3 linked regions of the Homo sapiens genome follow. The protein of the gene in region 1 interacts with the protein of each later gene in a pairwise test. Each region holds a gene or a part of one and is shown in the gene's direction. Other genes may lie near its edges. The genes, in order: CLK3, SAG and OAS2.

Region 1 (9,391 bases):
AGGCACCACAGTCAGCCTCCCTGAGGCCTCAGAGGACACGCCCTTCCAGGCTAGGACTGTCTCGTTCCCCACTGGGCATCTGAATTCTAGCTGTCCTTTCCTGACAGGGCCTGGCAGTTGAGCCTCAGCAGGTTTCCTTCTCTGCTGGCTCCCTGCAGATGGCCTCCTGGGGTGAGGTTGGGGGTGGGAGGCACAGAGCAGGGACTGTTAAAACCTTCTTTGGACACTTAAGAAGGGTTCCTGGCATTTTGTGGTCACTGATAAACACTGTGGCAGGTAGGTGCGGCTGGAGAGGGGTGTGGTAAAGGGAGTGGCCCTGGGCCTCACAGTGAGAGGTACCCTTGCTGGTACCCCTACCTCTTGCCAGATCTTTACTCGATCCTGGAACCCCCATCCCTGTTTGCTCAGACTTGCAGACAAGCTCAGGAAGGTCAAGAGGCGCCGCAGGAGGGTTCTCGGTGGGACAGCCTGGCCAGGGTTGGGGCTGCCTGGCCTATAGGTTAGGTCACTGTGTGAGCTCTTGGACTGGCACTGGTTAAGCAGGATTGGCCTCTACTCTCCCACACTCCTTTGGGAGCTGGCAGTGGCTGAGAACATAAAAGCCTAAGGATGGCAAGGATGCTAAGAGCATTAACTCACAGATCTCAGGGAGCTTGCTGTTGGGTGGGCAAAGGTCTGGTGTTGCATGGGGCAGGCTGGGCATCCAGTATCTGCTCTCTTCAGTGCCGGCTGCTCCTGGAGTGGTGTTTGTTGGGAGTTGCTGGGTTGGGGTGGAGGGTTGGGGAAGGACTGGGCAGCTGCTGATGAGAACCTCTGTTTCCTTCCCGGGTACCAGAGGGAAGTCTCAGGTTGCCCTGAAGATCATCCGCAACGTGGGCAAGTACCGGGAGGCTGCCCGGCTAGAAATCAACGTGCTCAAAAAAATCAAGGAGAAGGACAAAGAAAACAAGTTGTGAGTATCTGCAAGGAGTGGGAGGGAAGCCTTCAGTGGGGCTGCTGGACCCCCAGGGGCTTAGTAGTGTGCCTTCACCCATCCGCACTGTGCCTTCTCCCCACACTCAGAACCAGGGGAGTGTGGCAAAGGTCTTGCTGGAAGCCTTTAGACTGCAGTCCAGTCTTCACCCCAGCTGTCTCTGTGTCCTGAGGAAGGCCTCCCAGCCCTGCGTTTTGTGAATTGGGGAGCTCACTGGGTTATGCTGGGCATAAAACAAGATAAAAACATGAAGTTGGGGCTCTCACATAGTAGGAGATACCCAAAGGAGGGCCTTTCTGTGGCAGACACACTGAGCACTCTCCTCCACGCACTGTGCTGAGCCTGGGCAGATGGGTGAATCCAGCACAGACCCTCACGAAGCTCAGCAGAGTGAGCAAGTGGAGAAAAGCAGCACCAGTCCTGCGGAGTGCACTAGCACTTTCCATCTCTCCCTCAGCAACTCTGAGGCAGGGCTGCTTCCATATCATAAGTAGGGAAGCTCGGAGGGCTTGGACCAGAACCGTGGACATCTCCCCTACCCCCCGCAGGAAGCTTAGTCCTTGCCCAGAGCTCATCTGGGTATTGGGTGATGGCTGGTGGGGAGAGGTGCTCTTGCTCTGATTTCTCTTGCACTGTGTGTATCTGCATTCTGGTGTGTGACCCGGTGGCCTAGGAGAGAGTTGGGAACTGTCTTCATCTGAGAGAGGGGGTGAGGCAGGCCCCCAGCACACAGCCTGAGCCCTGCCCATCCTCCTCCTCCAGCCTGTGTGTCTTGATGTCTGACTGGTTCAACTTCCACGGTCACATGTGCATCGCCTTTGAGCTCCTGGGCAAGAACACCTTTGAGTTCCTGAAGGAGAATAACTTCCAGCCTTACCCCCTACCACATGTCCGGCACATGGCCTACCAGCTCTGCCACGCCCTTAGATGTAAGTGTCCACCCTCAAAAGAAGCATGGGCAGCCACATGCCTGCAGCCAAGTCATCTGGTTACTTGTTGTCCCCATTCATTCCAGCACGTTACTAACCATTCTCCTGGGCCTGAGGGACACCAGATCCCCTTTGGCGGAAAGGCCTGTCTTTGGGTGGGAATCTCAGTGTGAGGATGGAAAGGCTAGGGCTCCCTCCAGGGACCTCCTGGACCAGCCTCTCTACCCCCAGGCACTCAGGAAGAAAACAGAAACGAACTGCTCTGGAATTGGCCTAACCACCAACCCTGCCTCCCTGCTTCATGCATGGGATAAAAAGGTAGAAGCCTGACCTGACAGATAGCACCACAGGTCCTGCCCACATGGAGACCCTCGGTCTAACCCTGACTTGTCATCTCCCTGCCAGCCTGGAAAAGCATTATTTGGCAGTGCCAGGGCTCAGCGCAGTAGGATTTGCAATGGTTGCAGCAGTACAGAAAGGCTCCTTGGTGAAGTTGGTAGGCGTTGAGCTAGAATCGCTCAAGGTCACCCCGCATCGCTCCCCTACCCTGAGCACTGCTACTGTGATAGGCTGCAGGCCACTGGGGTGGGAAGCCCCACATGGATGAGAAGACAGGTGTCTTCCTCCTCCCACAGGATCTGCAAGATGGGACAGGGACAAGGATTCCAAGCAAGGGGAACAGCTTGGTGAGGCCTGGAGCCTGTTAACGGGCTGAGAATTGGCTCCAGTGGAGTAGACTGCCACTGGGGAGTGGTGGGCCACATAGTTGTGAGGGTCTTGAGTGCCAGATGGGATCCTTGAGCTGAAAAGTGACTACTAGCAAGAAGCCACTGTCAGAAGGGGCTGGAGGGGAAAGGCTTGCCTGCTTATGACTAGCAATGAGAGGCGGGGCTGTCTTCCTGGGTATGCGACCTGTGCACTCAGTCGCACAGGACCCTGTGCTTGATTTAATGTCCTTTTGCCACCACCTTAATATTCTTAGTAACTTGAACAGGGGACCTGCATTTTCATTTTGCAAAGGGCCCTGCAAATTATGTAGCTGGTGCAGGGAAGAGGGAACCACCTCGAGGCTGTTGCTGTAGCTCTGCTGAGAGACAGGTGAGGAGGCCTGGTCTCTGCAGAGGAGAGGTGGAGGGAGGTTTTTCGAATGGCAAATTTCTTTCCTACCCCCCTGCTAAAGTATCAGAACCCTCCAAGGCCTCAAGTACAGAGAACCCTTGAGAGGGAGGCCAGCACAGAGGCAGGCTGTAGTCCAGCTCCCTGCTGAGGTGGGGGTGTGAGGACCTCTGGCAGTTGCTGGCATTGGAAGAGGGGTCTGGCCTAGAGCTGGCAGGAGAGCCAGCTTCTCAGTGCCTACTTCCCCTTCTTTCCCTGCTACCTTAGTTCTGCATGAGAATCAGCTGACCCATACAGACTTGAAACCAGAGAACATCCTGTTTGTGAATTCTGAGTTTGAAACCCTCTACAATGAGCACAAGGTATTGGTGGGGGTAAGGGTGAGGCCCTGTTTCAGGGGTGGGTTACCCGCTGGTGCAGACTCCTGACCTGGCAGGCCTGCCTTGCCTTTCAGAGCTGTGAGGAGAAGTCAGTGAAGAACACCAGCATCCGAGTGGCTGACTTTGGCAGTGCCACATTTGACCATGAGCACCACACCACCATTGTGGCCACCCGTCACTATCGCCCGCCTGAGGTGATCCTTGGTGAGTGACTGTATGGCCTGTGACCTTGTCATACTGGACTGTTGTTGGGAGGGTATGAGCAGAGGCAGTGGCATGCCTGTCATTCTCTGCCACCCAGGGCAGGCAGAGTTTCTCAGACCAAGGGGCCAGTGTCATGAGACACAGGTGACTGACCTGGCTTTATCTGTCAGCCTTACTGAGAGAGGGCCTCGTACTGGGATTTGGGCAAGAGTCCTGCCAGCCGGTGTGGTGGCTGCCTTGTGACTTCCAGGCTGGAAGCATAAGGCCGGATCTCACAGCCTCTCCCCATCTTGGCTTGCAGAGCTGGGCTGGGCACAGCCCTGTGACGTCTGGAGCATTGGCTGCATTCTCTTTGAGTACTACCGGGGCTTCACACTCTTCCAGGTACAGCCACCCTGCATTGGTCCCCTACCCTGAGTACTGCTACTGTGATAGGCTGCAGGCCACTGGGGTGGGAAGCCCCACATGGATGAGAAGACAGGTGTCTTCCTCCTCCCACTAATCATCATGTGAGATTCAGACCCTTTAAGGATGTAGATGCTAAAGGGAAGGCAGAGGTCAGGGTAGCTGGAACACTCAGAGGAGTCTTATGCTAGGCCATCGAGGATGGAGGATGGGGTAGGAGGTGACCTGACCTTCTAGATAAGGGGCACAGATGACTAAAGGCATCGGGATGGGCTGGGACAGGGCATGTTCTGGGCAGGGAGTGAAGAGCTAACCAGAGAGAAATGTAGTCACAGCCCAGTCCACCTCCACCCACAAGGGCTGAGGAGCCTAGGCACAGGCTGGCAGGAGAAGCTGGGGCTGCCGCTTCATTGGTAGGTTTGCATGTCCTGGGGCAGTGAGGGCACTTGCCCATCTTTCTTGTTCCTTTTTCTCCTTGAAGGGGCCAGAGCTAGTACTGACCCCCTTGCACTGTCCCTAATCTTCCACAGACCCACGAAAACCGAGAGCACCTGGTGATGATGGAGAAGATCCTAGGGCCCATCCCATCACACATGATCCACCGTACCAGGTAAGGACCCCAGTAGCCCCCTCAGGGTTGGTATAGAGGCCTTTCTCTTCTTGGCTGTGGGTCAGCAGGGTACTGGATGTGGTGAGTCTTTGCTGGACAGTCCATGGTTCCGCAGGCTCCTAAAAGCCTTCCCTGTGTGCCCCTGCAGACCTGTTGCCCTGGTTCTGCTGCTGTCTTGGGAGCTGCTCTTCCCCACCTCCCACCAGAGGCTTGTCCCCTTACTACTCCCACACTTGACTCCACCCCCTTAATTTTCAGGAAGCAGAAATATTTCTACAAAGGGGGCCTAGTTTGGGATGAGAACAGCTCTGACGGCCGGTATGTGAAGGAGAACTGCAAACCTCTGAAGGTCAGTTTCTGGCTACCCCCAGCTGAACTCATGCCAAGGAGAGACCCCAGGCACTGGGCAGACATACAGCAGAGACAGGCCAGGCCGCTAAAGGCTGCCTCCTTGATCCAGCTCTATGGGAGGCGGCACCCAAGACTGCTGGGTGCTGGCAATGGGGCTTCTTGCAAACTGCCCCAGAGGGGCCCTTAGCCCTACCCCTTCCCCATAGGGTGGCTATGAATGTAATTGGGGAACACCAGAAGAGCCAGATGTCAGAAGCCCTGCTGCTTCCTGTCCCTCTCTCTCCTCGAAATTTTGGGAAGAACTAGGCAGGACTGAGGTGAGGGGGAGGGAAGACCTAGACATGGCCAGGAAGCCTCTGTCAACTGCATTTGGTGCTCGGACAAGTGAATTTCGCAGAGGTGATCTCTACCCACCTGTCAGGACTTTGCATGTGGGGGCAGAGGCATCAACCCAGCAAGACACCTAGTAGCCTGGCAAGTTCCGAGCAAAACGTTAAACAGGCATGAAAGGAAAGGAGCTGCTCATTGTCCAGGAGGGCGGAAGTAGAGTCCTCCAAGGAGGCATCACTGCCTCCTCGATCCAGTCCAGCAAGGCGTCCCAGAGGCAAGGGGACCTGCTGTGGCTTCCCACGACCCTGCCGTCACACTGAGGCACCTTGTGTCCCTGAGCAGAGTTACATGCTCCAAGACTCCCTGGAGCACGTGCAGCTGTTTGACCTGATGAGGAGGATGTTAGAATTTGACCCTGCCCAGCGCATCACACTGGCCGAGGCCCTGCTGCACCCCTTCTTTGCTGGCCTGACCCCTGAGGAGCGGTCCTTCCACACCAGCCGCAACCCAAGCAGATGACAGGCACAGGCCACCGCATGAGGAGATGGAGGGCGGGACTGGGCCGCCCAGCCCCTTGACTCCAGCCTCGACCGCCAGGCCCCAGGCCAGAGCCACCCAATGAACAGTGCAATGTGAAGGAAGGCAGGAGCCTGCAGGGGAGCAGACTTGGTGCCCAGCTGCCAGAAAGCACAGATTTGACCCAAGCTATTTATATGTTATAAAGTTATAATAAAGTGTTTCTTACTGTTTGTAACCCCTGGTACCAGTGTGTCCATCTCCAGGCTCCTTGCCTTCCCCTTACCTGACCTTATTAATAAAGTCTTTCTTAGCAGTTCAGCTTGTGGAGAGCTAAGTGTGAACTGGGCCAGGCACAGAAGAGCTAGGCAGGGGTAAGACCAGAATTGGGGACATCCTCTGGGCCCAGGCTGCTGAGCAGTCCTAGATGGCACCTCTGCCCTGCTGGCTTCTGTACCTCTCAGCCCCAGAGAACCTAAGGGAATCAGCCCACCGTGGCTAGCCAGGTGGGGTCTGGTTTTCCACAGCCTGCCAGTCCCATTACTGGCCAGGACTTTAGGCTGTATGTGCCCAACAACTATGGCCTGCTGAGGGCAGGAGACGAGTGGGGCGGGTTCCTAGGCTGGGACAGACAGCACCTCATGACAGCCTACAGAGCAAGTCACACGGCACAGGACTCAGTCAGTCATTCAGCTTTATTTCAGTGCTGGTTTTTGGTTCCCTAAGAGCTGCATGAGTGCTAGGCTTCACCACGTGACTGGGGGCCCCTTGGGAACTGGGTACTATGGGCAGGATGCCCCTGAAAAGAACTGAAGACAGAGGAATCATACTTCTCTTTAATACCTCTGGGGAAGGCCCAGGCTAAGGATGAGGGCAGGGACCAGTCCCAGTGCCCCCTGGGGAGAGAAGAGGGAGAAGCTTGGGCACAAACTCCCAGTGGCCCTGCAAGGCTATCATCCCTGGATCTTGCTGGAGTGGACAGTCTTCTGGGCCAGGGTTGTTCTAGCTTGTTTCTCACTGTACCTAATCAGGGGGCCTAACTGCATTAACAGGCAGCCAGAACCTACCTACCAAAAAGCCTGTAACCTAGACTGCTCCTCAGATTTTGGCCAAGAGAGGGCCCCGGCTTGGGAGCTGCTTGGCCCTGAGAGTGAGCAGAGGCTCAGAGAATACACAGCACAAGGGTTACAGTCCCTGGCCTCTTCCCATCGCTGGAGACAATTTAAGACTGAAGGGAAGATGAGAGGAGGGGCCAGCCCTCTACCCTGGCTCATCTGCTTCTGGCTATGTTCCTACAAGGGAAGTGATAACAGCCTGAAACCCGTGGTACCAGGGCCTACCCTATGTCCACAATCCTTGGTGAGCCCTTCTGTCCACCCATCCACCCGCTCAGCCAGCCTGGGCAGACACAGAGCAGAAGCAGCCTGAAGCCCTGAAGCAGGCTTAAACACAAGTCCTTGACAGGAATCCCTGCCAGGATTCCAGGCATAGATCCTGTTCTACCAGCCTCCAGGGCCTAGAGCTTGGCACCTTAGGATTTGAGCATCAGTGTGTTCCTATGGTTGGAACCCACACCAGCTAGCTCATCCAGAACTAGCCTCATTTTGCCATCTTTGAGACAGGGTGCTGGCCCCAAGCCTACTCATCTAGACTGGACAAATGTAAAAGGTTCAAAGCCCAGATGATGTAAGAGCTGGGGTGGAGCTCAAGCACGGGAGCCCATCTGCCTGCTCTGGGATGACAGCTGCAAAGGACCGTTTCAGGGGAAGGGCAGAGGGGATGAAAGAGTAGGTGGGGCATGTATGTGCGGGCAAAGGGCTGGAGGAGTGGTGGCCTAGGACAGAAGCACCAGGAAGCCTCTTCTGGTTCAGCACCAGGCTCCCCCAGGGATATCCCCATCTGAGGGGTCTGGCCCCAGACTAGGCAAAGGCTCAACCTGCTCAGCTTTGAGGGTGGGGGCGGGCACTGCTGGCAAGATGGGCACTGTGGTTCTACAGTAATATAACCTTATACTACCTGTGCTGAAGACGACAGAACAACATAAAATCCCAATACAGTAACACCATCCTAATGCCGCCCCCTTCCCTACCTCTGAGTGATGGAGGGAAAAGGAGGGAGAGATCCTTGGAAAAATCAGCATAAAACTTGGATCAGCTCAGGAGTAAGGGTCAAAACCCCCCAAATCAACTTGTGGGGCTAGGGGAAGGCCTGGTCTGTCACAGCCCTGGACATGAATGGAGAGTGCAGGTCTGCCCTCTGGTGGACAGCTGCCGTGCAGCTGGTTCTACAGAGGAAGGGCTGTCTGCGTGGGGAAAGCAGGGGAGACACAAAGCCACAAGCTCTGAAATAGAGCAGGTACAGGCCCCCAGACAGGACCTGGCCCACTCTTCAATGTGTGTGCCCAGGCCCAGTGGCTGTAAACCTGAAACACAGTCTTGAGAGCTGCCTACGGCTGTAAACAAAGGCCCACCTGGCCGTGCAGGGGGCTGAGGGTAGAGATGCCTGGAGTTGCTGCACGCTCAGCCTGCCACCCAGCCCGGAACCCAGTGGGAAAGACTTCCCTGGCTAAGAGCAAGTGACAGGTCAGTTTTAAGTAAGTTCTGTTCTCTCACAGAAGAAACAAACCCAAAAGAGAAAAAACTTTAACAAGGTCCATGAAGCTTCATATCCTTAAGGCGTTTGTTATCAGGAGCAGCAGGGGACAGCAGAGTCCTGCCTGCGCAGGAACCCTCTAAGCAGAGTGCAGTGGGATAACAAACTTGCAGCCAAAGGGCGAGTGGTAGTTGATGCCCACCTCCTGGAAGACCTGCTGGGGAATGCCAATGTCGCACAAATAGATACGGCCTGCGTGCTCCCCCAGTGGCAGAGGCAGGCCCAGTGCCAGTGACCATTTGGCATCAATGCCCTGTTCGACTTCATGCACAGGAGGGTCTATGCTGAGTACTGGTGCCCGGTTCTGGTTGGCCCAGGCCACAGCTGCCTTGTACCAGGGTTGATCGCGCAGGAAGACGTTCTCAGGGCAATCCAGGCAGTTGATGACCAGGTCCACAGGGCTAGTGGGCAGATCTGCAGGTGGAAAGAGTGCCATCTGAAAGTCCCTATGAGCAGAGAGCAGCCCAGGCTGGGACTAGGGCCCAGGTCACCCCAAGGGTGTCTTTGTTTTCCAGACACCACTCGAATGCCTCTCCAAAGGCTGGCCTTCTTAAAGCTGGGCCAGGGCACAGGCCCTAGGAGTTGCAAGCTGGCTGGGCTGAGTGCTAGAGACCAAGTGCATGTCAGCCCAGCAGACCACTGCCCTCCTGGAGTTCTCAGGATGAACCATTGTCGTCCTGAGTGTGCAGAGCTTCTCAGGGCACAAAGCCCTCACCTCCTCTGCCTTCTCAGGCATGCCTCTGTATATCCAACTAATGCCCTGGGCACCTTATGACCTCTGGGAAGGCAGAGTCCACTGTCAAGGTGGCCATCACAGGGAAACCCCACTCAGGTCCAGCAAAAACAGGAGCTGACTGCTATCTGCTGACCCAAGAAGGGTGAGCAGGTGAGAGCATGCTTATTCTATTCCAGCTGGCCTACTCAT
Region 2 (11,525 bases), on another chromosome or scaffold:
TCTTCCTGTCCTGGCAATGCCCGGGAATGAAGAGATAATCAGTCTATTTCCAGAATCCAAAGAGGTTTAGAAGAAAAAGTAGCTTTCATTTAGCTGTTGGCCCTCCCACCAACCTTCCCCAAGTCAGCTGGGTGACTCATACATCTGTGAGACCCTCCGTATGGAGACCGGGGCGGGGGGTGTTGCTTAATGCTTAGAACTGCTGAAACTACCAGTTCACTGTCTCAGCACTAATCCAACTCTGCTCCTTAAGTGGGATTTGGCTTTTAGACATTGAGACCTGGATGCTGGGCATCCTCGCTAGATCCCCTACAAATTCCCCACATACGTAGGCCAGGAGCCTCAGCGGTGCCCCTTCAGGCTCATCTGGCAAGACGGTACCAGCTTGCTCAGAACAGGGGCTGGCTATTCATCATCTCAGAGCATAGAGACCCTCTCCTTGCCACCCGGCCCTTCCCACCTGGTTGGTGACAAATCACAAGGTATGTGACCACCACAGGCCAAAACCTTATCAGAAACCTGGGGCAGGTGTGGGGAAGAGCAAGGATGGGCGTTTTCCTGCAGACAGTATGTCCCGCCTTCACCTTTTCTGTGTGGTTTCCATAAGACTTGGTTGCTATTTAAGGAGACTTGGAGTGAGCGGGTGCAATGGCTCATGCCTATAGTCCCAGTGACTCAGGAGGCTGAGGCTGGAGGATCACTTGAAGCCAGGAATTCGAGACCAACTTGAGCAATACAGTCAGACCCAGTCTCTACAAAAAAACAAAAATAAAAATAAATTAGCTAGGCATGGTGTCACACACCTGTAGTCCTGGCTACTCAGCTGGCTGAGGCAGGAGGATCACGAGCCCAGGAGTTCGAGGCTGCGGTGAGCTATGATTGTGGCACTGCCCTCCAGCCTGGGCAACAGAACGAGCTCCTATATCTTAAAAAAAAAAAAAACCTCAGAGTATGCTTAATTCTAGACCGCTAAGATGGCCTCTTAATTGTAAAACAGAGTGGCTATCTCTTAGTAGGAATTGCCAAATAGAACTTTTGGGATTTTAATATATTCTTTTTTTTTAAAAAAAGTGATAGGATCTTGCTATGTTGCCCAGGCCAGTCTCCAACTCCTGGTTTCAAATGATCCTCTCGCTTCAGCCTCCCAGAATGTTGAGATGACAGGTGTGAGCCACAGTGCCCGGCCATTAATATCTTCTTGAAAACAGTCTTTGCGAAGTGGTTATGTTGTGGTTTTCAGGAACTTTTCTGATTTATTCGCCATTAGACACAGTCACGATAGAACTTTAAATTCAACCTGGCTAAGTGTGATAACACCAAAGGTTAGTCAGAAAGTAAAACCTCATTGGAATCTAGCTAGACTCCCTGGCAAGGTGTACTGAGAAATGTTTGAAGCTTACCAAGAAAAATAAAATATTGAAAACACCCCAAAGCATGCTGCAGTAAAATACAAACTAAGCAAAGACTCACCGATGAAACTCGGATGTTGAAGCCGGTACAAGGGCATGGTGAGGACGCACAGGATCTCGTGAGTAGGTTTCATAACTAGGATGTTCTTGACTTGATATTTAGGATTGTCTTACCTTTCTCCAACCCTCTAACACCTGACCAACACCCCAAGGTGGTAGAAGTTGCCAGGGACAGATAACATGGCAGCCAGCGGGAAGACCAGCAAGTCCGAACCGAACCATGTTATCTTCAAGAAGATCTCCCGGGACAAATCGGTGAGTGGTGCACAAGTGAGTGATTTGATAGAAATTATTGTTTAAAAAAAATGGAGCTTTTTCAAGTACAGTGTAGTCATGATCAACATCAAAACTCTTTGAGGGCCAGGGCGCGGTGGCTCATGCCTGTAATCCCAGCACTTTGGGAGGCGGAGGCGGGATAACTTGAGGCCAGGAGTTCGAGACCAGCCTGGCCAACATGGCAAAACCCATCTCTACTAAAAATACAAAAATTAGCTGGGTATGGTGGCAGGCACCTGTAATCCCAGACTTGGGAGGCTGAGGCACAAGAATCACTTGAACCCAGGAGGTACAGGTTGCAGTGAGCCCAGATGGTGCCACTGCACTCTAGCCTGGGTAGCAGAGGGAGACTCTGTCTCAAATAAAAAACAAACAAACACTGTGAGGGCCAGGGAAGCTTTGTGTCTATTTTTGTCTCTGTCTAAGATGGATGATCACTGAGCTATAAATGAGTGAATGAACTGCAGAAATAGAGCTTCTCTTCAGTCTCATCAAGACTTTAGTCCTGTGTCCCTCAGTTTTCTCCGAATCCCTCAATCCCCACACTGTCACCCCCACCTCTGCATCTTTTCCTAGCCAGCCTTGAACCCTTGACTTACTATTTAAACACAGTTTTGTCAGTACCTGTGATGCCCTTGGCCTTTTGTCTATCTATTGTGTCACCTGCCTGGGTAAAACCCAGACAGTGATCAATGTGACTCCTTCTTCTCCGTGCACCTACCCCACCCGGGGGGTCTCAAGCCTCAGCTGGGCCCGCAGGGCCATTGGATAAGGGAAAATGCCCCAGTCTGCCCCCTTTCCACCACTCTCCAGGGGCACGTTAGATGCTCCAGGTGTGCCCATGAACTTCCTCGCATGGGAGAGGGTCCACCGTCCAGCCTCTGTGGATAGCTCCACTCGAAAGCTTCTTGTGGGCCAAAAATCTAGCTCAGCAACATCTAGTGCAAGCCACATATGTAATTTTAAATTTTCTAGTAGCCACATTTAAAAAGTAAGAAGAAACAGGTGAAATTCATTTTGATGTTATATTTTATTTCAGCCCACTATATCCAAAAAACTATCAGTTCAACTTGTAAATAATAATATAAGAATTATTGAAATCTGATGTGTATTTTATGTTTACAGAACATGTCAATTTGGAATGGCCATATTTCAGGTGTCCGGGAGCCACCTTAAGCAGTGGCTACCCTACTGGACAGGGTAGCTCGCCATCATTCTGGCTTTTTTTTTTTTTTTTTTTTTGAGACAGAGTCTCACTCTGTCACCGAGGCTGGAGTGCAGTGGCGTGATCTCAGCTCACTGCAACCTCTGCCTCCCAGGTTCAAGCAATTCTGCCTCGGCCTCCCTAGTAGCTGGGACTACAGGCATGTGCCACCGCGCCCAGCTAATTTTTGTATTTTTAGTAGAGACAGGGTTTCACCATGTTGGCCAAGCTGGTCTCGAACTCCTGACCTCAGGTGATCCGCCCATCTTGGCCTCCCCAAGTGCTGAGATTACAGGTGTGAGCCACCGCACCTGGCCCATTGTGGCTGACTTCTGAACCCGGTATGGGGTCCAAAGAACCTCCCCATCCTTACCGTGCCACCCAGGAGATCCGGCTTTGCCTGTGTGCTTTCTGCCTTCTCCTCTCCTAGTTAAGGAACTCGGTCATTTTAATCAAGTACTCTGATTCTTTCGTTCTCCAAGCCCTTTCCCAAGTTGTATCTTTCCAGTCCATTTTATCTCAACTTCTGGCTGAAGAGGAAACCACTCGTGTTGGTTTCCCACGTTGTTTTCCCCTTGCTCCTAGATTTTCCACCAAGAAATGTAGATGGTTTTTGTAGATAAGTCCTCACAGGTGGGAAAAGAGAATTCAATTCCTGTCTCATGTATTCAGATCATTTTGCCAGCGATGTCTGTGTGGCCCCAGGCATGGTGTGCCAGGGCTCTGAGCCCATTTCTCTGTGATTCTCCCGACGCTGCCCTCTTCTTTGACCTTCATCCTCCAGCAGGTGGCTAAATGACTGCCCCTGCTCCTGGCGTCTCACCCACACTTGACAACATCCAGAAGGAAGAGGCTGTGGTTTCCTGGGGTCTCTTGTAAGGGTCAGGAAATCTTTCCCAAGACTCTTCTCTCATATCTCATTGGCCAAAACTGGGTCACATGTCCACTGTAAACCAATCCCAAGCCAGAAGAATTAGATGATCGTAGTGAATCAGGCCAATCAAGAATCGTACCCTGGAGCCGGCCTCCTCTGAGCATACCGCCTGGTGGAAGATGGTGGTCCCTGAACAATAGTTGGCGGCTTTTATCCAGGAAGAAGGGGTGTGTGGCTGTTGGATGGGCCCCCGAAGGCTGGCTACAGTCTCACATCACCCACTTCTCTACCTGCCCCCATCCTGCCCCTGTCCTTCCTGTTGCAGTGGAAGGGGTAGTTTGCTCCCATCTGAGGTTCACCACCTCTTACACCCTGGGTTTCATGGTTGGCCACCTTCTCAGGGGCCTCAGTCATTGGTCTGGCTGTGTGTGCAGCCTCTCCTCTCTGCTAGTACTTTGTCTGAGCATAAAAATAAGTACCAGCCAGGCGCGGTGGTTTATGCCTGTAATCCCAGCACTTTGGGAGGCCAAGGCAGGTGGATCACCTGAGGTCAGGAGTTCGAGACCAGCCTGGCCAACATGGAGAAACCCTGTCTCTACTAAAAATACAAAAATTAGCCGGGCGTGGTGGTGCATGCCTGTAATCCCAGCTACTCGGGAGGCTGAGGCAGGAGAATCGCTTGAACCTGGGAGGTGGAGTTTGCAGTGAGCCGAGATCGCGCCATTGCACTCCAGCCTGGGCAACAAGAGCGAAACTCTGTCTCAAATAAATAAACAAATAAGTACCGACCTCATGCACCTTAAGAACAACCACCAACTACCCTCGACCCTATATCCTTTCTAGTTCTTCTTCCCTTGCAGCCAAACCTTTTGAAAGAGAAGAAACATGCCCTCTCTTCACCTGCCCTTGTCTCTCCCGTCCACTCTGCAGTCCCCCTCATCAGCTCCACAGTCAGGCTGCCTAACTGGTTCTCCCCTTGCCGATCCATTCTCCAGTTTGCTGCTGGCATGAGCTAAATCTCAGTGCTCCCTTCTATAAAATGGGCTGCATTCCTGTCTCATTGAGTTGCTGTGAGGATTAAGTGAAACCATGTGGTCAAAGTGCTTAGCTTGGCCCCTGATACATGATAAGCACTCGAAATGCTATTTAATTCTTCCAAAAGCTATTTCTCTATTTAGCTTTCCTAAATACTGTTTAATTCAAGTCTTTCATCCTGCTTAAAACGCTTCAACGTCTTCTGAGGTTCTTTAGGGCCACGTCCTATGAGACCATTTCAGCAGCAGCAGCCTGCATCCCCATTCAGTGGCATGGTGAAGCCATTGGCAGTTCCAGAAGCATTCTCGGGGCCCCGGGCTTCGTATACATTTTGCTCAGAGAGCATGCCCTCAACCGTCCCCTGTCCTCTGGCTATGCCATTTGTCCACCAGGTAGAGCCTCCTCTGAAAGCAAGAGCCTTCCCTCTCTCCTTCCCTCCTCAGTGCCCTCCCCTCAGGCTTCCTCCCCACCAGCCTTTGCCCTGGCATTTATTCCAGGGGCACAATTGCCAGTTCACTTGCTGGGCTCCCAACCAAAGAGCAGGGACCTTGGGGACCAAGGGGATGTCTTCTTCGGTTTTTATTTTCAGTAGCCAGCAGCTGCTGGGGCCTCTGTAACCGTGTGTGGGATAGATGAAAGCAGTATTTGCCTAATTGACAGGCGAAGTCTAGCAAAGGAGACAGGCTCCTGCAAGAGCACCCAGAACACAGTGTGCTGCACACTGAGGTGTGGTCGCAGGCCACATGCTCCCGGGGCACCAAAAGCCAGGGGGTGCTGGGCAAAGGGAGAGATGGGGACCGTGAGGTGTCCCCTGAAGCGTGGGTAGGATTTCCCCCAGGTGAAAGTGCAGCAGAAGGGCCTTCCTTACCGTGGAAACAATAGGAACAGAGGCACAAATCTGTGGTGTTTGGGGGAGCTGTGGCAGAGCCGCTGTGGCCAGAGCCCAGGGAAGAGTGGAGCTGTTAGAGAGGATGCTCTCAGGGTGGCCACGCACAAGGCGCTGGGGTTTATTCCACAGAGAAGGAGTGAGCAGCCAGTAGACACTGAGCAGCAGAATAGCGAGGTCATAGTTACCATTCCTGCAAGGCAGCCTCCAAATTGGTTGATTTGGGGAGAATTTTTTTTTTTTTGAGACAGGGTCTTACTCTGGAGACCAGTGAAGATCTCTTTACCCCCTTTGTGGGAGAGCAGGGTTGGAGTACAATGGTACGATCGTAGCTCACTGCAGCCTCAACCTCCTAGGCTCAAGTGATCCTCCTTCCTCAGCTTCCCAAGTAGTTGAGACTACAAGCAGGCACCACCTTGCCCGGGCTAATCTTTTTTTTTTTTTTTTTTTTTTTGAGAGATGGCAGGGGACAGAGGAGGGGGTATCACTTTGTTGCCCTGGCTTGAACTCCTGACTTCAGGTGATCCTTCCCACCTTGGTCTCTCAGTGTTGGGATTACAGGCATGAGCCACTGTACCTGGCCAGAGGAGAGTTTTTAAAAGGGGCTGTTTGCTAGGGTGTAGGCAGGTGTGAAAGAAATCACAAGAAATAGCCAGGTACAGTGGTGGCTCATGCCTGTAATCCCAGCACTCTGGAAGGCCGAGGTGGGTGGATTGCTTGAGCCCAGGAGTTTGAGACCAGCCTGGGCAACATGGCGAGACCCTGTCTCTACAAAAAAATATAAAAAATTAGCTGGGCATGGTGGCGTGCATCTGTAGTCCCAGCTACCTGGGAGGCTGAGGTGAGAGGATCACTTGATCCTGGGAAGCAGGGGTTGCAGTGAGCTGAGATAGTGCCACTGCACTCCAGCCTGGGCGACAGAATGAGACCTTGTCTCAAAAAAAAAAAAAAATTACAAGAAAGAGCTCCATGCGCCACACGGCAGTGACGAGCAGCTGGGTGCTGGCACCTCCCTGGGGTTAAGGGATGAGGGATCGCACAATTCTCAGAACCCCGAGGCCCTCAGGGCTACCTCCCAGGAACTGTGATCCCCACTAGAGGGCTGTGCCAGCCGCAGGCCCAGCCACCATGCAGGCAAGGTGGGGACAAACATCTGGCCCACCTTGCCCAGAAGCCAGAAGACCAGGGAATCTACTAGGGCAACACGCCCTGGTCAGCCCCGCAGGGTGGATCTTGAGGGCAAGGCCAAGACACCCACAGTGTTTAGGAAGCTGGGACTCGCTGCAGCAACCAGCAGGTAGCAGTGTGTGTCCCGGTCAGCCCGCTGCTCACAGGTGCCAGGCTTCCACACCACCCAGGCTAGTGAGGCCTCCCAAACATGCTTAGCGCTGGGAGTATAAGGTTTCCTACGGAATCTTCTCTGTAAACCAGGGTTCTAGTGGTATTTGCTGGAAGTCACTTCAGCATCATTCATGCGAGTAACCTAGAGGGCACAGGGCTACGCTTCGGGACATCTGATATGGGTGAAAGGGGAGCGTATAGGAGAGGACTTAATGCCAACAAAAATGATTTAGGCCGTTCCTGGAATTCAAAATATTCATTCGAAGAAGGGGGCCAGCCAAGGGGGCCACACTCAATGAAAGAGTGTACTCTCATTCATTGGTGCACTTGGCAAACACTGAATCCCTGTGTGTCCTAGACTCTGCAGTAGATGCTTAAAGATGTGCAGAGACTCCAGATTACTACCACCAAGCCACAGTCCTATGGATTAAAGTGCTGAGGGCTGGGAAACCCAACCCTGCTCTCCCATAAGTGGGTAGAGACCTTCGTTGCCAGGGGCAGGACAGGGCCAGGGCCTGTGGGCCCAGATGATGGCCATCCCCTTCCCACCCAGCTCCCTCAGTGCGTGGCTTTAGGTCTACCTGTGCAGTAGTTCACCTGGTGGGATTTCAGGGGCTTCTCCAGAACTCACACCTCTTTGCGTTGTCCAGAAGTTCTTTTTTTTTTTTTTTTTTTTTTTTTTTTTGAGACAGAGTCTTGCTCTGTCACCCAGGCTGGAGTGCAGTGGAACGATCTCTGCTCACTGCAACCTCCACCTCCTAGGCTCAAGCAACTCTCCTGCCTCAATCTCTCGAGTAGCTGGAATTACAGGCGTATACCATCATGCCCAGCTAATTTTTGTGTTTTTAGTAGAGACAGGGTTTCGTCATGTTGGCCAGGCTGGTCTCAAACTCCCGACCTCAGGTGATCCGCCCGCCTCAGCCTCCCAAAGTGCTGGGATTACAGGGGTGAGCCACCACACCCAGCCTGTCCAGAAGTTCTTGTGACAAAGAGGGGCTACCTTTCATTCCACAGCTGGAAATAAAAGATTTAACATGCAAATGGATGGCAAAAGTCTCATTTACATAATTTTCTTTCTTTCTTTTTTTTTTTTTTGAGACGGAGTCTCACTCTGTTGCCCAGGCTGGAGTGCAGTGGCGTGCTCTTGGCTCACTGCAACCTCCGCCTCCCAGGTTTAACTGATTCTCCTGCCTCAGCCTCTTGAGTAGCTGGGACTACAGGCGCGTGCCACCACGCCCAGCTAATTTTTATATTTTTTTTTAGTAGAGACAGGGTTTCACCATATTGGCCAGGCTCAAACTCCTGACCTCGTGATCCGCCCGCCTTGGCCTCCCAAAGTGCTAAGATTACAGGTGTGAGCCACCGCGCCCGGGCTGCTGCTGGTTTTTATCATGGATGCCTTAGCTTAGCATTCTTTGGCCCTTAGACCCACACCTGTTCTTCTTGCAGGTGACCATCTACCTGGGGAACAGAGACTACATAGACCATGTCAGCCAAGTCCAGCCTGTGGGTAAGTTGCTTGGAGAAAACTGTAATGCTGGTTTTCCTTTAAGTCACAGATAACCGCTCACTTTGTGTTTTTAAAAACTGGCCTTGCTAATAATCTAAATAAAGACATGCAAATTAAAACATCAGTGAGGCGCCACTGGCTGATTGGAAACAATTTTATTTATTTTTATTTTTATTTTTATTTTTATTTTTTTGAGATGGAGTTTCATTCTTGTTGGCCGGGCTGGAGTGCAGTGGCATGATCTTGGCTCACTGCAACCTCTGCCTCCTGGGTTCAAGTGATTCTTCTGCCTCAGCCTCCCAAATAGCTGGGATTACAGGAATGCATCACCACGCCCAGCTAATTTTGTATTTTTAGTAGAGATGGGGTTTCACCATGTTGGCCAGGCTGGTCTCAAACTCCTGACCTCAGGTGATCCGCCCGCCTCGGCCTCCCAAAGTGCTGGGATTACAGGCATGAGCCACTGTGTCCGGCTGGAAAGAATTTTAAAGAGTGTGAAGAGACAAAGGACTCATGTCTGGAATGTATGAAGAACGCTCAGAACTCAGCAGTACAAAAAGCAAGATCCTATGAGAAAATGGGGGAAAGACAGGAAGATACATTTCATCAAAGAAGATACATGAAGACAAGCAAGCACATGAAAACATCTTTGGTATCATTAGCCACTAGGGAAATACAGATTAAAGCTACAGTGAGAGCATATTATACACCTACCAAAATGGCTAAAATATTTTAGGTTGGTGCAAAAGTAATTGCAGTTTTTTGCCATTACTTTCAATGTAGTGGCGAGATCTTGGCTCACTGCAACCTCCACCTCCTGGGCCCAAGCGATCCTCCGACCTCAGCCTCCCAAGTAGCTGAGACTACAGGCATGTGCCACCACGCCTGGCTAATTTTTGTATTTTTTGCAGAGATGGAGTTTTGCCATGTTACCCAGGCTGGTCTTGAACTCCTGAGCTCAAGTGATCTGCCTGCCTTAGCCTCCCAAAGTGCTGAGATTACAGGCGTGAGCCACTGCACCCAGCAGCAGCTTCTTAAAACATGAAACACATACTTACCATATGACCCAACAGTTGCATCCCGGGCACTTATCTCAGAGAAATGAAAACTTGTGTCCTCACAAAAACCTATACATGATTGTTCACAGCAGCTTTATTTGTGGTAGCTCCAAACCGGAAAGAACCAAAATGTTTCTCAGAATGTCCCACGTCAGCTTCCTAGTTTTGATATTGTACTGTAATTATGGCAGATGGAACCATTGGGAGAAACTGGATGAAGGATACTAGGGACGTCTCTGTACTATCTTTGCAACTTCCTGTGAATCTATAATCATTTCAACACAAAACGTCTTTTAAAGAGTGTAGAAAAACTGGCAGTTTCAGACACTGGATATGCAAATGTGCCTTGGCAAAACACTTTCTGGAAGGTTATTTGGCAGCATGTTATCAAAAGCCAAATCCAATTCTATAATTTATTTTTAAAAAGTCATGGAGAGATATAAAGACATATGTATAAGGATGTTCATCACAATATTAATTACAATGGGAAAAATTGGAAACAACCTAGATGCCCTAACAATAGGAAGTGATTAAATAATTTATGGTACATCCATTCAATGGAGTAATACATAGCTATTAAAATGATTAGCACGTTTTCTCTATATGTGTGTGTGTGTATATATATACGTGTGTGTATAGATGTATGTATGTGAGTATGAATAGATGTTTGCAATGTATAATTGAGTGAGGAAAGCAGTTAGCTGAACAGTATGTACAATAGGATCTTTTTCTTTACTTAGTAAAAGCATTCGTATAATTAAGTTATATATGTCTGGAAAAAAATTTTTTTTGTCGGGGGTGTGGGACAGTGTCTCTATCACCCAGGCTGGAGTGCAGTGGCACAGTCACAGCTCACTGCAGCCTCAACCTCCCAGGTTTAGGAATTCCCCCTACCTCAGCCTCTCACATAGCTGGGACCACAGGCATGCACCACCGCACCTGGCCCATGCCCTGCTAACTTTTTTTCTTTTTTCTTTTTTGTATGTTTTGAGAAAAGGTCTGGCTCTATTACCCAGGCTGGAGTGCAGTGGCATGATCATGGCTCACTGCAGCCTTGACTTCCCGGGCTCAAGGGATCCTCCTGCCTCAGCCTCCTGAGTAGTTGGGACTACAGGCATGTACCACCACACCCAGCTAATTTTTTTTTTTTGTTTTTTTATAGAGACAGGCTCTCATTTTGTTACCCAGGCTGCTGGCTAATTTTTTTTAAAAACTTTTTGTAGAGACAAGGATCTCACTATGTTGCTCAGGCTGCTCTCGAACTCCTAGGCTCGAGCAGTCCTCCTGCCTTGGCCTCCCAAAGTACTGGGATTACAGGCATGGGCCACCACACCTGACCTGGAAAAATAAAATAAAAATCTGCACCAAGATCTTCACAATAGGTATTTTCAGGCAGTAGGAATTTGGATGACTTTTTTCCCTTTGCCTGACTTTTCTTTCTTTCTTATAATGAACATGGATTACATGTGTAATTAAAAACATGCGCAGTTTTTAAAGTAGGTGTCTGGTTTCTTTCATCTTCTCCACCCTCACTGCTCTCTCCCTCTTTTGCCTTAGATGGTGTCGTGTTGGTTGATCCTGATCTTGTGAAGGGAAAGAAAGGTGAGATGAAGCCCCTTGTCTCAGGCTGGTTTCTGGGCGGAGTGGACTGCTCTCTGGGCGGCTCTGGGAAGGGGCATTTACATGGAAGGAGAGACAGGAAGGCAGAGGCAGCGCTCTTGCACATGGAACCAGTGCCAGGCCCACTGACCCACACTCCTGTACCTAATTCACGTGACATAGGTCCTGTTGACACCAGAGCTCACTCGCTCAGCAAAGTCATTGTCCAGGGTGGCAGATAAGTAGATGGTAGACGGAGCCCAGGTCTGTGGC
Region 3 (11,525 bases), on another chromosome or scaffold:
GCACACACACACTCACACATGCACACACATGTACTCACACCATGCACACACGCACACACGCACACACATACATGCATACACACATGCATACATGCACTCACACACATGCACACACGTACTCACACCATGCACACACATGCACTCACACACATGCACACATGCACTCATGCACACACATGCATGCACACCATGCACACACATGCACTCACACACATGCACACACATGCACTCATACCACGCACACATATGCACTCACACACCACAAATATTCTGCCCTGTGGAAGGGGCAGTGTTGGCAATGAATATTCCTTCAATAGGCACCGTCCTCAGCAACTATAAGGCCAACTTACAACATCTGAGAACAACCAAGGTTGGCCTTCAACTTTCAAGCTGAGTGCCCTTCCCCACCTCCAGGTGAGCTAGCCCATCTTGTCTGTGTTGCCAGCAAAAGTACAATATTTGTATAGAACAGTAATTACTTGCCTCTTACTGCTGTTTTAAAAAAATGCCCTAAACTTAGTGGCTTAAAACACATGAATTTGAGCCAGGCACAGTGGCTCACACCTGTAATCCCAACACTTTGGGAGGCTGAGGCGGGAGGATCACTTGAGAACAGGAGTTTGAGACCAGCCTGAGCAACATAACAATACCCCGTCTCTACAAAAATAAATAAATAAATTAGCTGTAGTCCCAGCTAGTTGGGAGGCTGAGGCAGGACGATCACTTGAGCAAGGGAGATCAAGGTTGCAGTGAGCCATGATTGTGCCACTGCATTCAGCCTGGGTGACAGAACAAGACCCTGTCTCAAAATTACTTTTGCACCAACCAAAAAATATATATATACATATATATACACACACACATATACACATATATATACACATATATACATATATACACATATATGCACATATATATACACATATATACATATATACACATATATACATATATACACATATATACACATATATATACACATCTATACACATATATATATACACATATATATATATACATATATATGCTTCCTCACCTTTTCAAGCTCCTTGAGGTTGTCCAAATTTCTTGGCTCATGGCCCCTTCCTCCATCTTCAAAGCCAATAGCATAGCATCTTCCAGCCTCTCTCTCTACTTCCAACATCACACCACCTAACTCTAACTCCAACACCACCACACTCCAACTCTAACCCTCCTGCCTCCATCTTATAAGTACCCTTGTCCTTATAAGCACAGTGGCTCACGCCTGTAATTACAGCACTTTGAGAGGCTGAGGTGGGAGGATTGCTTAAGACCAAGAGTTTGAGACCAGCCTGGGGAACCTAGTGAGACTCCCATCTCTACAAAAAAAAAAAAAAAAAAAAAAAAAGCTAGGCGTGGTGGCACAAACCTGTAGTCCCAGCTACTCAGGAGACTGAGGCTGGAGGATCCCTTGAGCCCAGGAATTGGAGACTGCAGTGAGCTATAATGGCACCACTGCCCCCCAGCTTGGGTGACAGAGCGAGACACTATTTCTGAAAAAACATGGGTTAGAATCATGGGTTGGAAGGCTACCTGTTGGGTTCTATGCTCACTACCTAGGTGATGGGATCATTCATACACCAAGCCTCAGCGACATGCAATTTACCCATGTAAAACCCCACACATGTACCTCCTTGAACCTAAAGTAAAAGTGGAGAAAAATGTATTAATTAATTCAATTAAAAATTAAAATTAAGAGGAAAAAGACCCCTGTGATAACATCAGGCCAAACCAGGTAATGCAGAATAATCCTCCCATCTCTAGAGACTTAACCACGTGTGCTTCAGAGGGAGCACAGCTGTGCCAAAACCTGGACTTTGAACTGTTGGCCTCCAGAACTGGGAGAGAATAAACTTCTGTTGTTTTAAGCCACCTAGTTGTGGTCACTTGTTATGGCAGCCTTTGGAAACCAACACACCCGCACATGGCGTGTTTAACGCAGGCTGATACAACCTTAAGAAAGGAATGGATGTGGTCATCAGCAATCTCCAATACCTACAGCAAATGGGAAGACAGGGAAGGACCAGAGGTGTAGGTAAAGCAAAAAGCCACAGGTCATTAGGAAGTGATGCTCCAACTGGGCATGGAAAAGGAGTTTGGAGTTAGGAACACGACAGATCTGTCTGGACAAGGATCCAGATCTCTCCTAGGGGGAAGGAGGGGCAACTAGGACAGTTTTTGTGTCTGTGGGGGGTCTTGTGTGCCACTCCAAACTCTCAGGTGTGTTCTTGGGATGTATTTGTGCAATGACAAAAGACGGAAAAGATGCCAGCCCACGAGCAGGAGGGCAGTTGGGAGAGGCAGGGTAGGGGGCCCAGTACAGGCAGGAAAAGAAGCCTTGGGTGGGCTTACAGGTGCCACTCACACTTGGGGTCTTCCTTCCTTCCCCAGCCTGCACCACTCTTCACGACCCCAGGCCACCTTCTGGATAAGTTCATCAAGGAGTTTCTCCAGCCCAACAAATGCTTCCTAGAGCAGATTGACAGTGCTGTTAACATCATCCGTACATTCCTTAAAGAAAACTGCTTCCGACAATCAACAGCCAAGATCCAGATTGTCCGGGTGAGCACTGGCCTTTCTCATGTCTTGTTGGAATGATGTAATATTGGGCATTCCTGGAAGGGAGGTAAGTGGGCATTGTAGCTCTCCAGGATCCATCTACCTTCAGAAACTTGAGGAAGGGAAGCCAGGAGTTAAGGGAACTAGGACACTAGTTTTCAGGGGGGTTGTGGATAGACTGCCTAGGTCATTAACAACACAACTTTGATTCTGTATTGTTTTTCTTGGAGCTGTTGGCCGTCCTTGGGGCTCTTGGGCCTGGAGACACATCACTCCCGTCTCTGCCTCTGTCATCACCTTTTCTTCTGTGTCCTCCCCCTTCTCTTCTTTTCTAAGAACACTTGTCATAGGATTTAGGGCCCAGCCTGATCCAGAATGATCTCATCTCCAGGTCCTTAACTCAGTTACATCTGCGAAGACCCTTTTTCCAAATAAGGGCACATCCACAGGCCCCCAGAGCATGTATTTTTAGGGGTCCACCATTGAACCCACTGCAGATTCTAAGGAGCTTAGAATCTCCTTCTCCTTTGAGTGACTGGAGCCCGGCTTGCCCCATCAGCTGAGCTAGAGATTTAGAGGCTTTTGTCATTCTTGTCCGTGGCTCAAAGGCCACGGGGCTGACATGTTTCTCTCTGTTTACTGGTCACACGACCAGATAAACGTGTCCCCGTGGTCACAAGAAGGGAAGGAGGAAAATGTTATTATGTACGCGTAAATTTCTGCGTTGATGCCAGAACAAATCTGTGCAACTAGAGAAGAGGGGCCTGGGAAATGGCACCAATAGCCCCAGGGCAATGAGTGAACTGTCTCATTGAAGGTCACTGGAGTGAAAACAGGACTGAGTTTCTGATCAGTGTTAGAATTGTCAAAGCATGTGCTTTCTCCTCTCCTTCCTGAAACCCCATTCACATGATAGTCAGTGAAAAATAAAAGGTATATGACACATCAAAGAAGAAAAGAGAGCCATCGGCAGATAAGACATTGCTTTCCATCTTCCTGAAGTTGGTTGAAGGTTTCTCTGCTTAGGCCAGAGGAAGGTGACACCTAGAGATTGTAAGGAAGGGGCTACAGTCTGAGAGGAGCCGCCGAAGCCCACCTCTTAAAGACAAAGGTGGCCTGCATGAATGAAGGGGGCTGGAACAGGGATGAATTGAGGATCTGCATACAGGAAATAGAACATACCCTTTCCTCACCTCCTTAACCCATGTAATCAGGCATTTAATACCCATGGATAAAATAAAACATTTTTCTCTACAGAAACTAAATGGAGGAGAAAGAGGAGGAAGAGGAGGAGGGAGGGAAGGGAGAAGCCTTAATGGCAGAGACATAAATAGCCCACAAAGCCTAAAATACCTACTATCTGGCCCTTTTGCAGAAAGTTTACCAACCCTGTACCTCAATTATGGATATTCACCCAATGATCGCCAGACCTGCAGGAGAAAACACACATCAAAGAACAGATGAGCACCTTCACCATAATTATTGCATTCCGCTCGATTTATTTGGTTACAGGAATCCAAATAAAGCTAAATATGTCTTTAGGAAAATCTTTAGGAAATTGACCTGAGAAGCAGGTAACTTGTAACTAGCCCATCAGTTGTTCATGTATAAAAGGCAGGAGAATAATTGCCTTGGGAACTGTATTGTTTAATAACTGCATTATCTATTAGTTTGTAAAAGAAAACCCTTTGCTTTGGACTCAGCCCTCACTGAACCCTAACGCAGAACTTGGCCTTGGAAACAGTGTCAGTTAGCCCAACTGGTGCCAGCCCACGGGGGCACGGGACTCCTCGGTTAAGGAAATTCTGGATCTCAACCTTCCTTTCTTCCTTAGGGAGGATCAACCGCCAAAGGCACAGCTCTGAAGACTGGCTCTGATGCCGATCTCGTCGTGTTCCATAACTCACTTAAAAGCTACACCTCCCAAAAAAACGAGCGGCACAAAATCGTCAAGGAAATCCATGAACAGCTGAAAGCCTTTTGGAGGGAGAAGGAGGAGGAGCTTGAAGTCAGCTTTGAGCCTCCCAAGTGGAAGGCTCCCAGGGTGCTGAGCTTCTCTCTGAAATCCAAAGTCCTCAACGAAAGTGTCAGCTTTGATGTGCTTCCTGCCTTTAATGCACTGGGTAAGGCTCCCCAGACCTTAGCTTGGAAGTGATGGTGGACAGAAGGTGGAGGGAGAGCCACGTGACTTGATTACGGGCTCTGAAAACATGTGCCACTCATGGGTCCCTGGCCCCAGCAAGTGGCATTAGTCATGGCAGTAATACTTCACACTTGTAGACAATTTTGGTCCCATTTCTCTTTTCCAAGCATGGGGCTGTGTGCCTATAATCCCAGTAATCAGGGAGACTGAGGCAGGAGAATTGCTTGAACCCGGGAGGTGGAGGTTGCAGTGCGAGATCGTGCCACTGCACTCCAGCCTGGGTAACAGAGTGAGACTCCGTCTGAAAACAAACAAACAAACACACAAACAAAACAAGCAGTTGGGCTGGGCATAGAGGCTCACACCTGTAATCCCAGTATCTTGGGAGGCCGAGGCGGGAAGATTGCTTGATCCAGGAGTTCGAGACCAGCCTGGGCAACATAGTGAGACTTCATCCCAAAAATAAATAAATAAATAAATAAATAAATAATAAACAAAGTTAGCCAGGCATGGTGGCACACGCCTGTAGTCCCAGATACCCAGGAGGCTGAGGTGGGAGGATTGCTTGAGCCCAGGAGATGGAGGCTGCAGTGAGCTGTGATCATGCCACTGCACTCCAGTCTGGGGCAACAGAGCAAAACTCTGTCTCAAAAAAGCAAAAAACAACAACAACAACAAAAAAAAAAAAAAAAAAAAAAAAAAAAAAAAACAAGAAGCAGCGCACCAGATTTAGCCCAGGGGGCGGTAGTTCACAAAGTCCAGATCAGTGTCGTCCCAGAGATCTTTCTGTGATCATGAAAATGTTCTATGTCTGGGTTCTACAACTACTGAGAGCTTGACATGTGGCTACAGCAACTGAGGAACTAAATTTTTAATTTTCATTCCCTTTAATGAATGTGAGTGCAAATGGCCACATTGCTGGTGGCTGCTCTGTTAGTTTAAGTCTAGATAATACTTTAATAATACCAGCTGCACCTGTGTAGACCACATAATTTTTACATATCTCATTATTCTGGAGATGCTCCCTGTGTCTTAGACATCAGTCTTTTAAATATGCTAATACTATTCACAGTAATTTCCAAGAATTAAATCATATTTGTCAAAAATGTTTTGGAATCTGTTACTTACTATGTGTATTAAAGCAGGATGTCAATCTCTCCCTCATGCCAGGTCAGCTGAGTTCTGGCTCCACACCCAGCCCCGAGGTTTATGCAGGGCTCATTGATCTGTATAAATCCTCGGACCTCCCGGGAGGAGAGTTTTCTACCTGTTTCACAGTCCTGCAGCGAAACTTCATTCGCTCCCGGCCCACCAAACTAAAGGATTTAATTCGCCTGGTGAAGCACTGGTACAAAGAGGTAAGGACAGTCTTTGTTCTGACCATGGGGTTATTATTTTTACCAGTAAGCCATGAACATTAAGCCCTGTTGCCCACAATCTCCCATGCTGAGGGCTGAGCCACTTTGGAGAATCTGCCCACTGGATATCTTTACGACGTTCCCATCACTAACCCTATTCATTTGGGTCAGGCGTTGATGGCTTCTGCCCATCAAAGCTGCTACATGTGGTTTACTTTGCCCTCACACTGGCCAAAGAATTCTGCAGGAATCCAAGTGACCTTGCCTACAGAGGGTGGGTGGAAGCTGGGATTCACATGCCCACACATTGCCAATAGGACTTTTCTGCTTCCCGGCGCACATGCTCTCTCTCAGAAGGCAGGTTGAAGCTGTAGGTGGAACCGGGGCTGCATTTTCTATACACCCAGCTCACAGGAGCTTGAACAACTGGTCAGCCCCTGAGCCCCTACTACAAGTGATCCTCAGGCAGGTAACCCCAGATTCATGCACTGTAGGGTGCTGAGCAGCATCCCTAGTCTCTACCCAGTTTCCCCTCACTTGCACACAAAGTAGCTTCTGAACATCCTCATGACAGTAAACATCAAGCACGATATCAGCTCTTCCTGAGATGCCTCCTTTCTGTGTCCAGCTCCCTGAAATGTGAAACCAAGACCAAACTCTGTAGTTTTCATCCCAGAAAATCAGAGAGCTGGCATGGCGTGTCAGAAGACTTGGGGCTGTGGCGTGACCTTGAGTGAGTCACTCCACTTCCCGCAGCTTCAAAGTCTTCATCTAAAATGCAGGTCATGCTGCCTGCATTGTGGGGAAGATTAGGAATGATGTGGGTAAATGCCTGGGCCCATAGCTGGCATGCAGTGGGTTTCTAGTAAACTGTAGCTATGTTATTGTCCTAGGAAGGCATATATGGTCAAAAGCACAACAAAGAAACTCAAATGTGCTGCTGCCAGGTGGACTCCTGTAGGCTGTACAATTTAGACATCCAAGCTGCAGAGTGTGAGCACACCAGCACGACACTGTGACTCAGTTGCCTTGCTGTGGTCCCTGTGCGGCTCTCACTGAGCTCCTAGGCTAACCAGTTCGTCTGATGTTCCCACTCTTACCTAGTGTGAAAGGAAACTGAAGCCAAAGGGGTCTTTGCCCCCAAAGTATGCCTTGGAGCTGCTCACCATCTATGCCTGGGAGCAGGGGAGTGGAGTGCCGGATTTTGACACTGCAGAAGGTTTCCGGACAGTCCTGGAGCTGGTCACACAATATCAGCAGCTCTGCATCTTCTGGAAGGTCAATTACAACTTTGAAGATGAGACCGTGAGGAAGTTTCTACTGAGCCAGTTGCAGAAAACCAGGTGCCTTCACCCTAGCCCCGTACTTTTCTTAACCTGATTCCCTTGAACACTGTCTCAGCAACCTGGATTTTCCTCTGCTGGGGTCACGATTCATTCCTTGCATGACGGGGGAAAGTGCTAGCCAACAGAACCTGTCACAGTCTCCAGGGATAAAACCTAGCAGGGGCAGGAGAAAATGCTGTTCAGAAAAAATAGAGAAGGAAGGTTCAAGATACCACGTCCCTGAGCTGCTTTCATCTAAGAGGTGTTAGAGTTGGAAGTGTGTCCCTAAGAATTAACGCTATCATTCACGGGCCGATTTATCCTGCAGGGTTTTTATTGGGTTAGGGTTTATCTACTCTTTCAGACCTTCAAGAATAGTAAGAAATCATATCCATCTGCTTAGGGCCACCAGCAAGGGACAAAAACAATGGAAACCAGAGGAAAGGAAAGAGAGAAAATAAAGGAGCGTTGAAAAAGAATAGAGGAGAAGTAAGAGAGAAGGAGACCCCCGGTGGGTTGCCTACCCTGGGTTCTTGGCAACATTGTATTTGATTAAATTATGTATCATATTTTAGCTGACATAGCAAGGAGGAGATATTTAGACTATGCCTTCATTATGCCTTCATGAGTATAGCAATTAACAGCTTTCAAAACGCTTTTGGCAAATACAATTTAATTCTAGGAAGTTGCTTTGGTTTTGGCTTTTGTTTTTGTTTTTGAGACAGAGCCTCACTCTGTCACCCAGGCTGGAGTGCAGTGGCACAATCTCAGCTCACTGCAACCTCTGCCTCCCGGGTTCAAGCTGGTTCTCCTGCCTCAGCCTCCGAAGTAGCTGGGACTACAGGTGCGCACCACCACGCCCAGCTAATTTTTGTATTTTTAGTAGAGATGGGGTTTCTGCATGTTGGCCAGGATGTTCTCGAACTCCTGGCCCTCAAGTGATCCTCCCACTTCAGCCTCCCAAAGTGCTGGGATTACAGGCATGAGCCACTGCACGCGGCCTCTAGAAAGTTACTTTGAACCCTACTAGTAAATTTGAGTTGCTGACATCTAAGCTGTAAGAACACATTGTCTTATTGCTGAAAGTATTATAGGATGGACCCCAAATTCTGAAGTCACTGGGATTTGGAATCTCCTAATGCCTTCTAACCTCTCATTCAGGCCTGTGATCTTGGACCCAGCCGAACCCACAGGTGACGTGGGTGGAGGGGACCGTTGGTGTTGGCATCTTCTGGCAAAAGAAGCAAAGGAATGGTTATCCTCTCCCTGCTTCAAGGATGGGACTGGAAACCCAATACCACCTTGGAAAGTGCCGGTAAAAGTCATCTAAAGGAGGCGTTGTCTGGAAATAGCCCTGTAACAGGCTTGAATCAAAGAACTTCTCCTACTGTAGCAACCTGAAATTAACTCAGACACAAATAAAGGAAACCCAGCTCACAGGAGCTTAAACAGCTGGTCAGCCCCCTAAGCCCCCACTACAAGTGATCCTCAGGCAGGTAACCCCAGATTCATGCACTGTAGGGTGCTGCGCAGCATCCCTAGTCTCTACCCAGTAGATGCCACTAGCCCTCCTCTCCCAGTGACAACCAAAAGTCTTCAGACATTGTCAAACGTTCCCCTGGGTTCACAGATCTTTCTGCCTTTGGCTTTTGGCTCCACCCTCTTTAGCTGTTAATTTGAGTACTTATGGCCCTGAAAGCGGCCACGGTGCCTCCAGATGGCAGGTTTGCAATCCAAGCAGGAAGAAGGAAAAGATACCCAAAGGTCAAGAACACAGTGATTTTATTAGAAGTTTCATCCGCAAATTTTCTTCCATTTCATTGCTCAGAAATGTCATGTGGCTACCTGTAACTTGAAGGTGGCTACAAAGATGACTGTGGACGTGGGTTGCACTGGCCACCCAAGGATGTCTGCCACACCTCTCCAAAGCCCTCCCTACCTACCAAGATATACCTGATATATTCCACCAGGATATCCTCCCTCCAGATATACTTGGTTCTCTCCACCAGGTTCTTTCTTTAAAGCAGGATTTCTCAACTTTGATACTTACTCACATTTGGGGCTAGACAGTTCTTTGTTTGGAGGCTCTCTTGTGCATTGTAGGATGTTGAGCAGCATCTCTGGCCTGTACCCAGTAGATGCCACCCAGTTGTGACAATTAAAAGTGTCTTGAGACTTTATCATGTGTCTTCTGCCCTAGGTGAGAACCCTTGCACTAGAGGAACCCTACACCCCAACCCTGGGGGGAATGTAGGGAAGAGGTGGCCAAGCCAACCGTGGGGTTAGCTCTAATTATTAAGATATGCATTATAAATAAATACCAAAAAATTGTCTCTGGCAATAGTTACCTTCCCAGATACAGGTCCCCCCTTTTTTCCCCTAACTCTTTTAAGCAATGATTGTAACTATTAGGAGACATTGCTCTCCCACGTATGTTTTTCTTTTTAGACAATGCAGACACCAGGAAGTTGTGGAGCTAGGATCCATCCTATTGTCAATGAGATGTTCTCATCCAGAAGCCATAGAATCCTGAATAATAATTCTAAAAGAAACTTCTAGAGATCATCTGGCAATCGCTTTTAAAGACTCGGCTCACCGTGAGAAAGAGTCACTCACATCCATTCTTCCCTTGATGGTCCCTATTCCTCCTTCCCTTGCTTCTTGGACTTCTTGAAATCAATCAAGACTGCAAACCCTTTCATAAAGTCTTGCCTTGCTGAACTCCCTCTCTGCAGGCAGCCTGCCTTTAAAAATAGTTGCTGTCATCCACTTTATGTGCATCTTATTTCTGTCAACTTGTATTTTTTTTCTTGTATTTTTCCAATTAGCTCCTCCTTTTTCCTTCCAGTCTAAAAAAGGAATCCTCTGTGTCTTCAAAGCAAAGCTCTTTACTTTCCCCTTGGTTCTCATAACTCTGTGATCTTGCTCTCGGTGCTTCCAACTCATCCACGTCCTGTCTGTTTCCTCTGTATACAAAACCCTTTCTGCCCCTGCTGACACAGACATCCTCTATGCCAGCAGCCAGCCAACCCTTTCATTAGAACTTCAAGCTCTCCAAAGGCTCAGATTATAACTGTTGTCATATTTATATGAGGCTGTTGTCTTTTCCTTCTGAGCCTGCCTTTCTCCCCCCCACCCAGGAGTATCCTCTTGCCAAATCAAAAGACTTTTTCCTTGGGCTTTAGCCTTAAAGATACTTGAAGGTCTAGGTGCTTTAACCTCACATACCCTCACTTAAACTTTTATCACTGTTGCATATACCAGTTGTGATACAATAAAGAATGTATCTGGATTTTGTGCCTAGTTCCTAGCACACAGCTTCAAAAATTCTAGAGTTTCCTGATAGGAGTGTCTTTTGTATTCATAACAAGCCCTTTTCACCCATGCCTGGGTTTATGCTAACAAGGTTACCCATGGTGGGCCCTTAGTTTCAAGGAAGGAGTTGGCCAAGCCAGAAAGACCAAGCATGTGGTTAAAGCATTGGAATTTTCAGCCCCATCCCACCCCCAATCTCCAAGGAGGTGATGGGGCTGGAAATTGAGTTCAATTTTAACATGGCCAGTGATTTAAGCAATGCTGCCTATGTAAAGAAACCCCAATAAAAACTCTGGACAGTGAGGCTTGGGGAGCTTCCTGATTGGCAGACATTCCAATGTACTAGGAAGGTAGCGCATCTTGATTCCACAGGGACAAAGGCTCCTGAGCTCTGGGCCCTTCCAGTGCTTGCCACCCTACATACTCTTTGTCTGGCTCTTCATTTGTATTCTTTATAATAAAATGGTGATTGTAAGTAGAGCATTTTCCTGAGTTCTATGAGTCATTCTGCAAATTATCAAAACTGAAGGAAAGTCATGGAAACTCCCAAGTTTGTAACCAAGTCGGACAGAGGTGTGGGTAGCCTGGGGACCCCATGTATGGCTGGAGTCTGAAAGAAGGGTGGACTTGGTGAGGACCTTGCTCTTTAAATTGTGGGATCTACACACATTCCAGGTAGTCAGTGCCAGACTTGACTTAAATTGCAGGACAGTCAGCTGGTGTCACAGATTAGGTGTTGGAATGCACCACTACTCTTGTCCAGGATGCAGGCAAAAGAAATATATATGAAGATGTTGAAAAATG

What was found.
Region 2: the proteins of CLK3 (region 1) and SAG interact in binary tests that used the Homo sapiens proteins (3 or more experiments, as listed by UniProt).
Region 3: the proteins of CLK3 (region 1) and OAS2 interact in binary tests that used the Homo sapiens proteins (3 or more experiments, as listed by UniProt).

What each region holds. Positions count from the first base shown.
Region 1 is NC_000015.10:74,624,067-74,633,457, forward strand, and holds the end of CLK3 (dual specificity protein kinase CLK3), read left to right. Parts: intron 1-835; coding exon 836-952; intron 953-1,735; coding exon 1,736-1,902; intron 1,903-3,285; coding exon 3,286-3,380; intron 3,381-3,472; coding exon 3,473-3,602; intron 3,603-3,903; coding exon 3,904-3,986; intron 3,987-4,537; coding exon 4,538-4,617; intron 4,618-4,875; coding exon 4,876-4,966; intron 4,967-5,640; coding exon 5,641-5,817; 3' UTR 5,818-6,135; downstream 6,136-9,391. Other genes in the region: EDC3 (enhancer of mRNA-decapping protein 3), read right to left, coding at 8,546-8,880. UniProt on the Homo sapiens protein: Dual specificity kinase acting on both serine/threonine and tyrosine-containing substrates. Phosphorylates serine- and arginine-rich (SR) proteins of the spliceosomal complex.
Region 2 is NC_000002.12:233,307,541-233,319,065, forward strand, and holds the start of SAG (S-arrestin), read left to right. Parts: upstream 1-275; 5' UTR 276-482; intron 483-1,621; 5' UTR 1,622-1,649; coding exon 1,650-1,724; intron 1,725-8,534; coding exon 8,535-8,595; intron 8,596-11,210; coding exon 11,211-11,255; intron 11,256-11,525. UniProt on the Homo sapiens protein: Binds to photoactivated, phosphorylated RHO and terminates RHO signaling via G-proteins by competing with G-proteins for the same binding site on RHO. May play a role in preventing light-dependent degeneration of retinal photoreceptor cells.
Region 3 is NC_000012.12:113,000,520-113,012,044, forward strand, and holds the end of OAS2 (2'-5'-oligoadenylate synthase 2), read left to right. Parts: intron 1-2,412; coding exon 2,413-2,583; intron 2,584-4,414; coding exon 4,415-4,703; intron 4,704-5,893; coding exon 5,894-6,081; intron 6,082-7,185; coding exon 7,186-7,424; intron 7,425-8,567; coding exon 8,568-8,736; 3' UTR 8,737-9,854; coding exon of another isoform or gene 9,855-9,965; 3' UTR 9,966-11,204; downstream 11,205-11,525.